Linked DNA regions of Homo sapiens. The protein of the gene in region 2 interacts with the protein of the main gene of each other region in a pairwise test. Each region holds a gene or a part of one and is shown on either strand. Other genes may lie near its edges.

Region 1 (4,730 bases), on a different chromosome or scaffold from region 2:
ATTCATTTGGTTGGCATGGCACCAGATAAGTGATTCTTGGTCATTTCTGAGTTCATAGATTTTTCAATAAATAATTTCACAAAATTGTATGCATTCAACAGCCATGCATACTAGTGCATACAGCTTTAAGGGGTTTATGGCTCCTGAAGCCCATCTGTGGATATGGAGCCATAGGACAAATATTAGGAATCCCTTTTCTAGAAACCTGAATTTTAATCTCGATACTTTATCAGTATTATGATCAACAGCAAACTTATAAAATGATCTTCAAACATTAAATGTATTTTAACTAAAGGTAATGAAAATAGAGTATCTAATTCTGGGGCAAATTTTCTTTCAGGTGTATAGAAACTCATAATTAGGCATTGAAACTATTCTTTATTCTGTGGAGATGAAAACTGAGAAATAGTAAGAAGGATTTATTTTCCAGCAACTGTCTTATTAGTAAAGACTAAATGTGACATTGAAAATGGGTTTTTGTTGCATCATCATAATTATTATTGAAATATTTCCAAATTAACCAGATCTACTACTCACATTAGAGTTTGCTGAGAAAAATTACTATAAGCATTTATTTTATGTATTATAAGTGTGGATAAAGAAAAAGAATAATAATAAAGCCTGTTATTAAAGAATTCCAGAGTATACGCATTCAGAAGAGATTGTTAGAGCTCTTGAAGAGCTCAGCCTTTATATTTAAAGTGCTTTGAAAGGAGAAAAGGAAAGTGATTTTCCTGAGATGCCACCCTGGGGAATATAAAGAGACTTCTGGAGACTTACCAGTTGTTAAATTCTTTGCCATTTGACCACTTCCATGGGTGACCAGGTTCCTTTTTCAGTCCAACCCAGTGTTCCTCTCTACCTGCGTATCGTTTTAGAAAGTTCTTAAAGAAAGCACAAAGGAGTTTGTTACATTAAACACCCTTCTGGGGAAGTAGATAGTAAATCCTGTTTCTCAAAAGCTGCAACTTGAGGCATGACAGCTTATCTGACCATGTACTCATTCTATATAGGATCAGCATATTTGGATTTCTGGTCTTTGAAGCTAAGCAATCAAATCAAATTTAAAAGATTAAATTAAATCTCATTTTGACCTCAGGCTGATCATATGGTTCTCTGGGATGACATTTTCCTACATCTGAAATAGGTACAATGTTTGTTTGTTTGTTTGTTTTCTCCACTTAGAAACGGAAGGAAAGCACTGATTAGCCATATGAATTAAAATAGTAGTATTTTATCTTTTTTTTATTCTTACCATGTCCTTTTCAGAATCAATGACAGCAAGAGTAGCACCATGTTCAGAACAAGCATTTTGGGCTGAAGTCCAGCTCCTCTTCACAGTAGAAATAAAGTAGCATTTCCTCTGGTAGCCAACCCAGTCCTCAGAGCATGAAGAAACATGGCTGTCTGATGGCATTGAGAATGTGTATTGGCCTGGACAATTGTATTGGCCCACTGTGAACAGAAAAATGCTTTGTTTTAGTAACAAAAGAAACCAAATACCCACAGCATGCAAAACTAGCCTTAGGATGCTATGTTGTGCTAGGTGGTGATAAAGTAAAGGATAAAAGCTAAAAAGTAGAATTCTGAAAAGGGTATGAAGAAAGAAAGTTCTCAGGACCATATCTGATCTTCCATTGTGCCTAATCATCATTGGATGGAGATATGAGGATGAGGGGATGTACTTTTGGTCATAATGTCAGAAAATGACAGAAATATAGAACAATTCTGAAAATTTGGACTAGATATTTCTTTGGACTAGAAAGGATAAAGTGCATTATACATTTCAAATAAGGTTTTGAATCTGAATGCAGAGGCGGAAGAATTTGAAGATGCAGTATTTATAGCACTAGGCTGGAAAGATGGAGAGAGTAACTAACTTTTAGGGAACCAATTCAAAATACAGAAAGACATATGACTCAGAATATCTCAAAACAATGGTAAACATTCCCATTTGTAAAAGATACAAATATATCTTGGTACAGCTGGAGGTATTGAATACCAAATCACTACTGACTCTCTGGGAACTTTTAAATATAATCTTAATTATTCAGAACTACCATTCTGTGTCCTTTGAGATAAAACACAAAAGACTGGCCACTTCCTGATTAATCTATGGCTTTAGATACGATTTTTTTCCATAATCAATGAATGTGAAGTTCACATTTTTTTCTAGCTAAATAGGTATTTATTCAGAATTCAAATCAGCTCCCTTCATTCTAGATGTAAACATCTTTTCAAATGCAATTTTATTCTACAGTAATATATAAATCATAGATACTTTTAATACTTATAAAAGTATTACATTAATTATTCAAGGATTGTGGAATTATGTTTAGTATTGATTAGGAAATTGGCCATATATGGTACATGGGATGATTCTGAATTAGCTAGTTTCTGATTAACTAGACTAAACTAATATTGATTTCAGCTGGGCATGAATGCTTACAGCTAGGAGGCTTTGAAAGAATTGATGAAGTGTAGACCCACCTGATAAGGCAATGAGAGCTATGATTAAAATGGTGATGAAGACCACATTCATTACAGCACACAGGACAGGAACTTGGAAGGACCCTTCATGACGTGTTGAGAAATGGGGACTGGTGGCATCATCTGGAAGGGAGAAAGTTGATGATGAGTTCAGGCAGACTATAGAAGTACTATAGGAATATGCAACATTCTTTTGAGGCATTTAAACTTAATATTTCCTATCTCATTATATGAAATTTCCCCGTCTCTTTATAGAAATTTCTAAGTTAATTTACCCCCAATTTTGAGTGAATTTGAATAGTTTATTGTTGGCTTGAAATGAAACAATTCAAGCATAATGATGAGATTATAAAGTGTCTCCCCAAAATATTTACCTGACACATATGATTTATACACTTAGTAACTATGAAAATTCTAAGTATATAATCAGTTTGTTTTAATGATGATAAGAACGTTTATTAAATATGCACATGCCCCAGAAGACACATAAAAAAATTCTAGGGCATGGTGGCTCACACCTGTAATCTCAGCATTTTGGGAGGCCGAGGTGAGTGGATTGATCACCTGAGCTCAGGAGTTCAAGACCATCATGAGCAACATGGTGAAACCCTGTCTCCACCAAAAATACAAAAAATTAGCTGGTCATGGTGGCACGCACTTGTGTTCCCAGCTACTTGGGAGTCTGAAGTGGGAGGATCGCTTTAGCCTGGGAGGCAGAGGTTGCTGTGAGCGGAGATTGCACCACTGCACTCTAACCTGAGTGACAGAGTGAGACCTTGTCTAAAAAAATAAATAAATAAATAAATAAAAAATTCTAGCATAATTCCTTAATCTCCTTGTAGTTACTGTTTGAGAGAAATGATGTGAATGGGATAAATATGGATAATATCATAAAGTAAAATATTGAATTGCTATATAAATATCTGACATTAAAATGACTGAACAAAATTTTAAACGTGACAGTATTTTTTGGTGAAGTTGCTGCAGATGTGGAGCAACTGGAATTTTCAGATATTATTGGTGGGAGAGTAAATTGGAAAAACACTTTGGAAACTGTTTCTTATAAAATTAAATATATGCCTTTTCTATGGCCCAACAAACCTACTCCTATGTATATCCTCAAGAAAAATGAAAATATGTTCTCAAAATGCCTTGTGCAAGAATGCTCCTAGCAGCTTTATTCTTAAGAGCCAAATTCCAGAAATAATCCAAATATCCACCAACAGGAAAATAAGTGAACAAATTATGGTATATCCATACAAGGGAATTCCGCTCAGCAATTCAAAATAAGACAACTGATACATGCAACAAAATGAAGGAATCTCCAAAAAAAATGTTGAGTGAAAAAAAATCCAGCCACAGAAGATTGTATACTACATATTTGCATTTACATGACTTTAAATAATAGTTGGTCTAAGCTCTGGTGTCAAAAATCAGAACAGTAGTTGCCTTTGTGTGTGTAGGAAAGGTAATTTAACTGGAATGGGACACAGGGCAAACTGTCTAGGGTGATGGAAAGATTCAAATGTTGCTGGTCTTGTGGTTATACCACTGTCATAAGTCGTTAAACTGTATACCTACGAGCTGTGCATTCATCGTATGTGAACTAAACCTCAATTTAAAATGATATGTGAATGAACAGTAAAAATTTGAATTTTTCAAAAGATGTTAAAATAATAGAGGAAATGTAACAGTATTATAGACCAAATATTCAGCGAAAGTTATTTCATTTACCCTCTGTACAATGGTGAAACAAAGTAAAAGCCTTTTTTTTTCCCAACAAGCAGTGTTTCTATGGAAGGATTTAGAATAAAAATATGATGTTAACGATAACTGATAGTTACAAAAAACTCTAAGAGGATGTCTGTTCTACACTCTAAGTAAATAACTGAGGAAGGAGAAAAGAGAATTTTGCGACTTAGATTTTGGATTTTAATTTTGCAGGATGAGCTGTCAGGAGTCTTAAAATGCGGCCCCACAAGGAGTATACAGGTCCCTATTATGTTCTCAAAAACCAAAATGTAAAATGGCTGCTTAAGTAACTGACAATGCAAAACAGTTTCAAAATAGAAAACATTCTATTTTTCAATATGGATGATTTTCATAACTTAAAAAAGTTTACATAAGACATATCTTGAAATACACATATTTTTACCCTTAAAACATTTATCTAAAGGTAAACTGGACCAAGAGAAGTTGCCTTTTTTTCACAGTAATTTACTGGGTACTGGTGTCCACAT
Region 2 (4,777 bases):
CAAATTAAAGACTTCAAAGTGTACTTTGGTAACCTCGCAAAAGCACTTTCATTTGAGAGCCTGGGGCAGAAGTCAGAGAGAAGTTGGCTGGAAAGGGATGTCAGTGAGACCACCAGGGTGGTCACTGGAAGGTGCAGCTATGATGTTGGGTTGATGAGTGGGTGCCTTTTTCTCCCTCCCACTTCATCCTCAGGGCAACAAGGGAGGGCAGGAAGGGGCTGTGAGGCCTGTTCCTCTGAAAGCAAGAGACTTCTCTGTGTTTCTGTGATTGAAGCCCACTCCTTTTACATTTTCAGTATCCAAATGACCATTGCTGCCTAGAAAGCCACCCATAGCATTGACTCTGATTTGGGCATGGCCAGTGAGACATCCATAATCATCCGTCCCTAACAAAAATTTCTAAATGTGGTATTTGACTTAAGCCACCTTTGAATCACTCTGAACAGGATGGCACTGAACTTTTATTAATCCCCCCCCACCAAATTCTTTTTTTTTTTTTCCTAGAGAGGCAGGGTCTCACTCTGTCACCAGGCTGGAGCAAGTGCAGGGGCCTGATCATAGTTCACTGTAGTCTTGACCTCTCAGCCTCAAGCAATCCTCCTGCCTCAGCCTCCTGAATAGCTGGGACCACAGGCGTGCTCCAAGGCACCCCACTAATTTTTAAATCATTTTTTGTAGAGATGGCATCTCGCTTTGTTGCCCAGGCTGGTCTTGAACTCCTGGCTTTAAGCAATCCTCTCACCTCAGTCTTTCAAAGTGTTGGGATTACAGGCATTCGCCACCACACCTGGCCCAAATCCTTTTATTTTAAATGCTCTATAGCTATATTGATCTTTCTATTAACAAAACAAATGAACAACAATAACAAAAAGAGAGAGAAAGTGAAACTCACTCAGGAGTCCCCTCTATTCTTTCTGTTCTTAATCCCGGTAACCACACATTTGACTTGAGTTTGATTCTGCCGAGGAAACACAATTATCTAATCATCCAACCAATAATAGTTTTATTCAGGCTCCTCTATGTGCCCCACATGGAGCTTGATGCTGGGTGTAAGCAGTAAAATAAATCAAAACGTGCAAATCTTCCTTTTAGGTCTGTGTCTAGATTAATTTCTTGATGTTTTCCAGTCTAGTGCAACCCAACCCAACAGATCTTGTCAAGGAATAGATGGCTATAGGTTCTGAAAATAAGAATGACTCCAAAGTCCAGACGCAGGATCAGGATGTTCCTTCTCTAAGAAGGTGGTTTAGTTATTTCTGGGAAAATATCCTAGAAAACCTTACAGTGGGATTAGGGACAGTTTAATGGCTATGTCAGTGGTTCCCAACCCTAAATGCACATCAGAGTCACCTAGGCAGTGGATCCATCCCACAACTATTAAATGAGAGTCTCCAGGGATGAGACCTGAATACTGTCTTTTTTCTTTTCTTTTTTCTTTTTTTTTGAGACAGTCTTACTCTGTCACCCCCAGGCTGGAGTGCAGTGGCATGATCTTGGCTCACTGCAACCTCCACCTCCTAGGTTCAAGTGATTCTTCTCTGCCTCAGTTTCCCAAGTAGCTGGGACTACAGGCACGCACCACCACGCCTGGCTATTTTTTTATTTTTATTTTTAGTAGAGACAGGGTTTCACCATGTTGGCCGGGCTGGTCTTGAACTCCTGACCTCAAGTGATCTGCCCACCTCAGCCTCCCAAAGTGCTGGGATTACAGGCGTGAGCCACTGCGCCCCGCCCACTGTCTTTTTTTTTTTTTTAAAGGACCTCAGGTGATTCTGATGCACAGCTCAGGTTGAAAGCACTGAACTAAAGGAAGGAGCCTTTTGATATGCATTCAGGAAGCAGCCAACCTAATGCAATCAAGAAGAGATAGTTCCTAACTGTCAGCCTTGTGGCTAAGTGAGGAAGAGATAATTTGGCAAACCATGGAGACCCCACACAACACACAGAGCTGTAATCTAGAGCAAGGAGACAGACAACTCCCAAACCTACAGTCAGCTCCAAGAGCCCTAGCACCTTTCATGTGCTTTTCCTGAAAGCTGATGTGTGCCATCCATAAAGATCACAGCTGGGCCCACCAAGAGGAAGCTGTGCAGAGATAATGCAGCCCTCACAGCCACTTCCGGAGACTACACAGAGATTCTAGTGGTTTCCACTTAAAACGCTCCAGTGCATTGGAGAGGCATTTGCCGGGCATGCACGCTTGTAGATTTCACATCCCATGAGTGTGGAGCTACTTTCTTCTACCTTCTGTTTGTCAGTTTTAGCTTTTCTGACTACTTCCTTGATGTTAAGTTGTCACTTGCCAGGTTTTCCCAAAACGTGGGTTTCTCATCTCCAACAACCCTAATCTACTTAGCTCTCTAATTACTAACTTCTTACTAGTCTGTGAGTCAGAAAACCACATGACAAAATTGACTTAGAACTGTCACACGATAAGGGAACCAGGAACTCTCCAAATAGAGTTCCTAACTCTTTCAGTTCTCAGAATTAGTGGAAAGATCCTGCAGCCATTTCCAGTGCAACATCCTAGAGATCTGAGGTTCCCTGGAGACCAACTCTCAGATGATCTTGACTGGGATTAACAACGGAGGACAGGACACTCTCAGGACTTACAAATTACAACTGCTATTACAGCTCAGCATTTCAAATTCAAGATAATTTCTTATTCAAATGTGGACCAACAGATAACTGAAAATTCAGTTTCATGAGACGTAAGCAGCTAGATGTAAAGGGGATAAAGAGGACAAAGTCATGCGCTTTTACATTCGGAATTCTGCACTTCCAGCACAGTTCTAAACATCTTGTATTGACTTTGGAGGAGAATGAAAATAGTGAAGCAAGAGTGGATTAGTAAATATACTTAAATCGCAATACCTAGGAGAAGAGTGTTTGGCTGAACTGAAATACTTTTAACACACAGTGCAGTTACATGAGTGACTTAAGGGTTCTTATCTCTGGACTTTGAGTTTTGGCCTAAAATGATGTAATGATGTTGCTAAAAAGACATTGTTAAAGAACTTAAAGCCGAAACAGCTCAGCAGGATGAATGAAGATGAAGGTACTGGCTATCCCAAGGAGCCCATTCAACAGCAGCTTACCTCTTCTCAGCTCCATATTTTCAATGTGACTGGGTCTTATAGTACAGGCTTGTATTCATCACAGATGTTTGGAACTTCAGAATAATACATGGTGCAAATTTGCATTTACCTTCCATTGTAAATCAGTTCCAATAAAAGATAATATAAAAGGCAGAGCTTCTGCCTTGGATTTTGTGTTCTTTAAATTTTTTGGTGCATTCTGTCTTTAAAATATAAGAAGTACCTCACTATATTCAGTGTAACACTCAACCGTCCCTGTCATGAGCTGGGTGACCTTGGTCATTCATTTATCCTCTGGTGGGCTCAAATTATTCATCAGTAAAATAACGAGCCTGTACAAATAAAATGTAATTTTTTTCACATCAGATGGGTAACGTGCCAAATCATAACAAGGTTTGAGCGAGGCACATCTCACACATGGGCATGAAAACCCAATCATCGCTTATGAAACTAACATTTCAATAGAAATACATTATGAAAGTTCTGGTTCTAAATCCATATTATCTTGAGGGCATATCCACTGATGCAATGGATATGATCATTATTTGATTTGATATCAAACTAAAACGAGTGAGAAAAAAAAAAAGAAACCCCAGAATATGTTACAGTTGTTTTTATTCCAACTGAAAATTGAGTAAGGGTAACTCTTCACTTTAACGTACCTAGAAATGATATCTCCTTGCATAATTAGTCATTTAACAGAGCCAGCAACCATCCAGGAGCTTGGCTTGGTGTCATAAGACATGTGTAAGTAGCAAAGCACTGTCTGGTTTTGAAATCTCAAAACCATGAGTATTGAAATGTTGTATTTGAGTGTTTAATGAGAAGTGGTTAATCATTTACTTCCTTTTTTCAGGAAAGGGGAACTCTCTGTCTTCTAGACAAGGTCACCAACATCTAACCTTGGGCTGTGTCTTCCCATACAACCCTATTTACGTCAACCTTCCAATGACTGCTCCTGGGGACAGAGTGGTGAAATGGTACCATGGGCATTCTGACAACCAACTCAGAGAAGAGATGCTACATCCTTTGCCCTCTCAGAGGGTCAGAATTGAGAACATCTCCCAGTACCTAGACATACTCTGGTACATATGAAGTTTGTGATCTATGAATTTGGACCACAGAATCCACCACTACATCTAGCTCTTACTTCTCTCCAATGCCCTGCTGGTTCAGTCAACAGTAAGTCAACAGACAGACATGTAAGAGCTAATGTAAGATGCTAGGCAGAATGCAAGATGTAAGATGTAAGATGTAAGATGTAAGCATGTAAGATGCTAGGCAGAATCCAGAGACAAAGTTGGAAGATGTCACCCTGTGTAACAGAAGTTTCTAGGACTCTGCACACTATGCATATTAATAACGTATTTAAAGAGGGAACTTGAAGACAGTTTAGGCAGGAGATTAAGGAGACCTCTCATGTGTTTTCATGTGTTGTCATAGCCCCATGTTTGGAAATGACAATATGTGACACAAGAGTGTCAAAATGAAGACACCAGAGGATGACAACAGTCAATCAAAGCCCAGTAGAATCTAGGAACTGGAAGCAAGGAAGGTGAGAATTTGTCAGTGTGGCTTCATCACTACCTATTGGTGGAAGACACATACCTGATAACTACTTTGCTAGTTCTTAGCACATCAGGGCCATTTTCTGGAGGCATAATGTAATCTACAGAAAC

The links. The genes of interacting proteins can lie anywhere in the genome.
Region 1: the proteins of PMP22 (region 2) and CD69 interact in binary tests that used the Homo sapiens proteins (3 or more experiments, as listed by UniProt).

Annotation. Positions count from the first base shown.
Region 1 is NC_000012.12:9,753,807-9,758,536, forward strand, and holds part of CD69 (early activation antigen CD69), read right to left. Parts: intron 2,614-4,730; coding exon 2,491-2,613; intron 1,456-2,490; coding exon 1,256-1,455; intron 885-1,255; coding exon 781-884; intron 1-780. UniProt on the Homo sapiens protein: Transmembrane protein expressed mainly on T-cells resident in mucosa that plays an essential role in immune cell homeostasis.
Region 2 is NC_000017.11:15,234,327-15,239,103, forward strand, and holds part of PMP22 (peripheral myelin protein 22), read right to left. Parts: intron 3,556-4,777; exon of another isoform or gene 3,459-3,555; intron 959-3,458; coding exon of another isoform or gene 921-958; exon of another isoform or gene 893-920; intron 1-892. UniProt on the Homo sapiens protein: Might be involved in growth regulation, and in myelinization in the peripheral nervous system.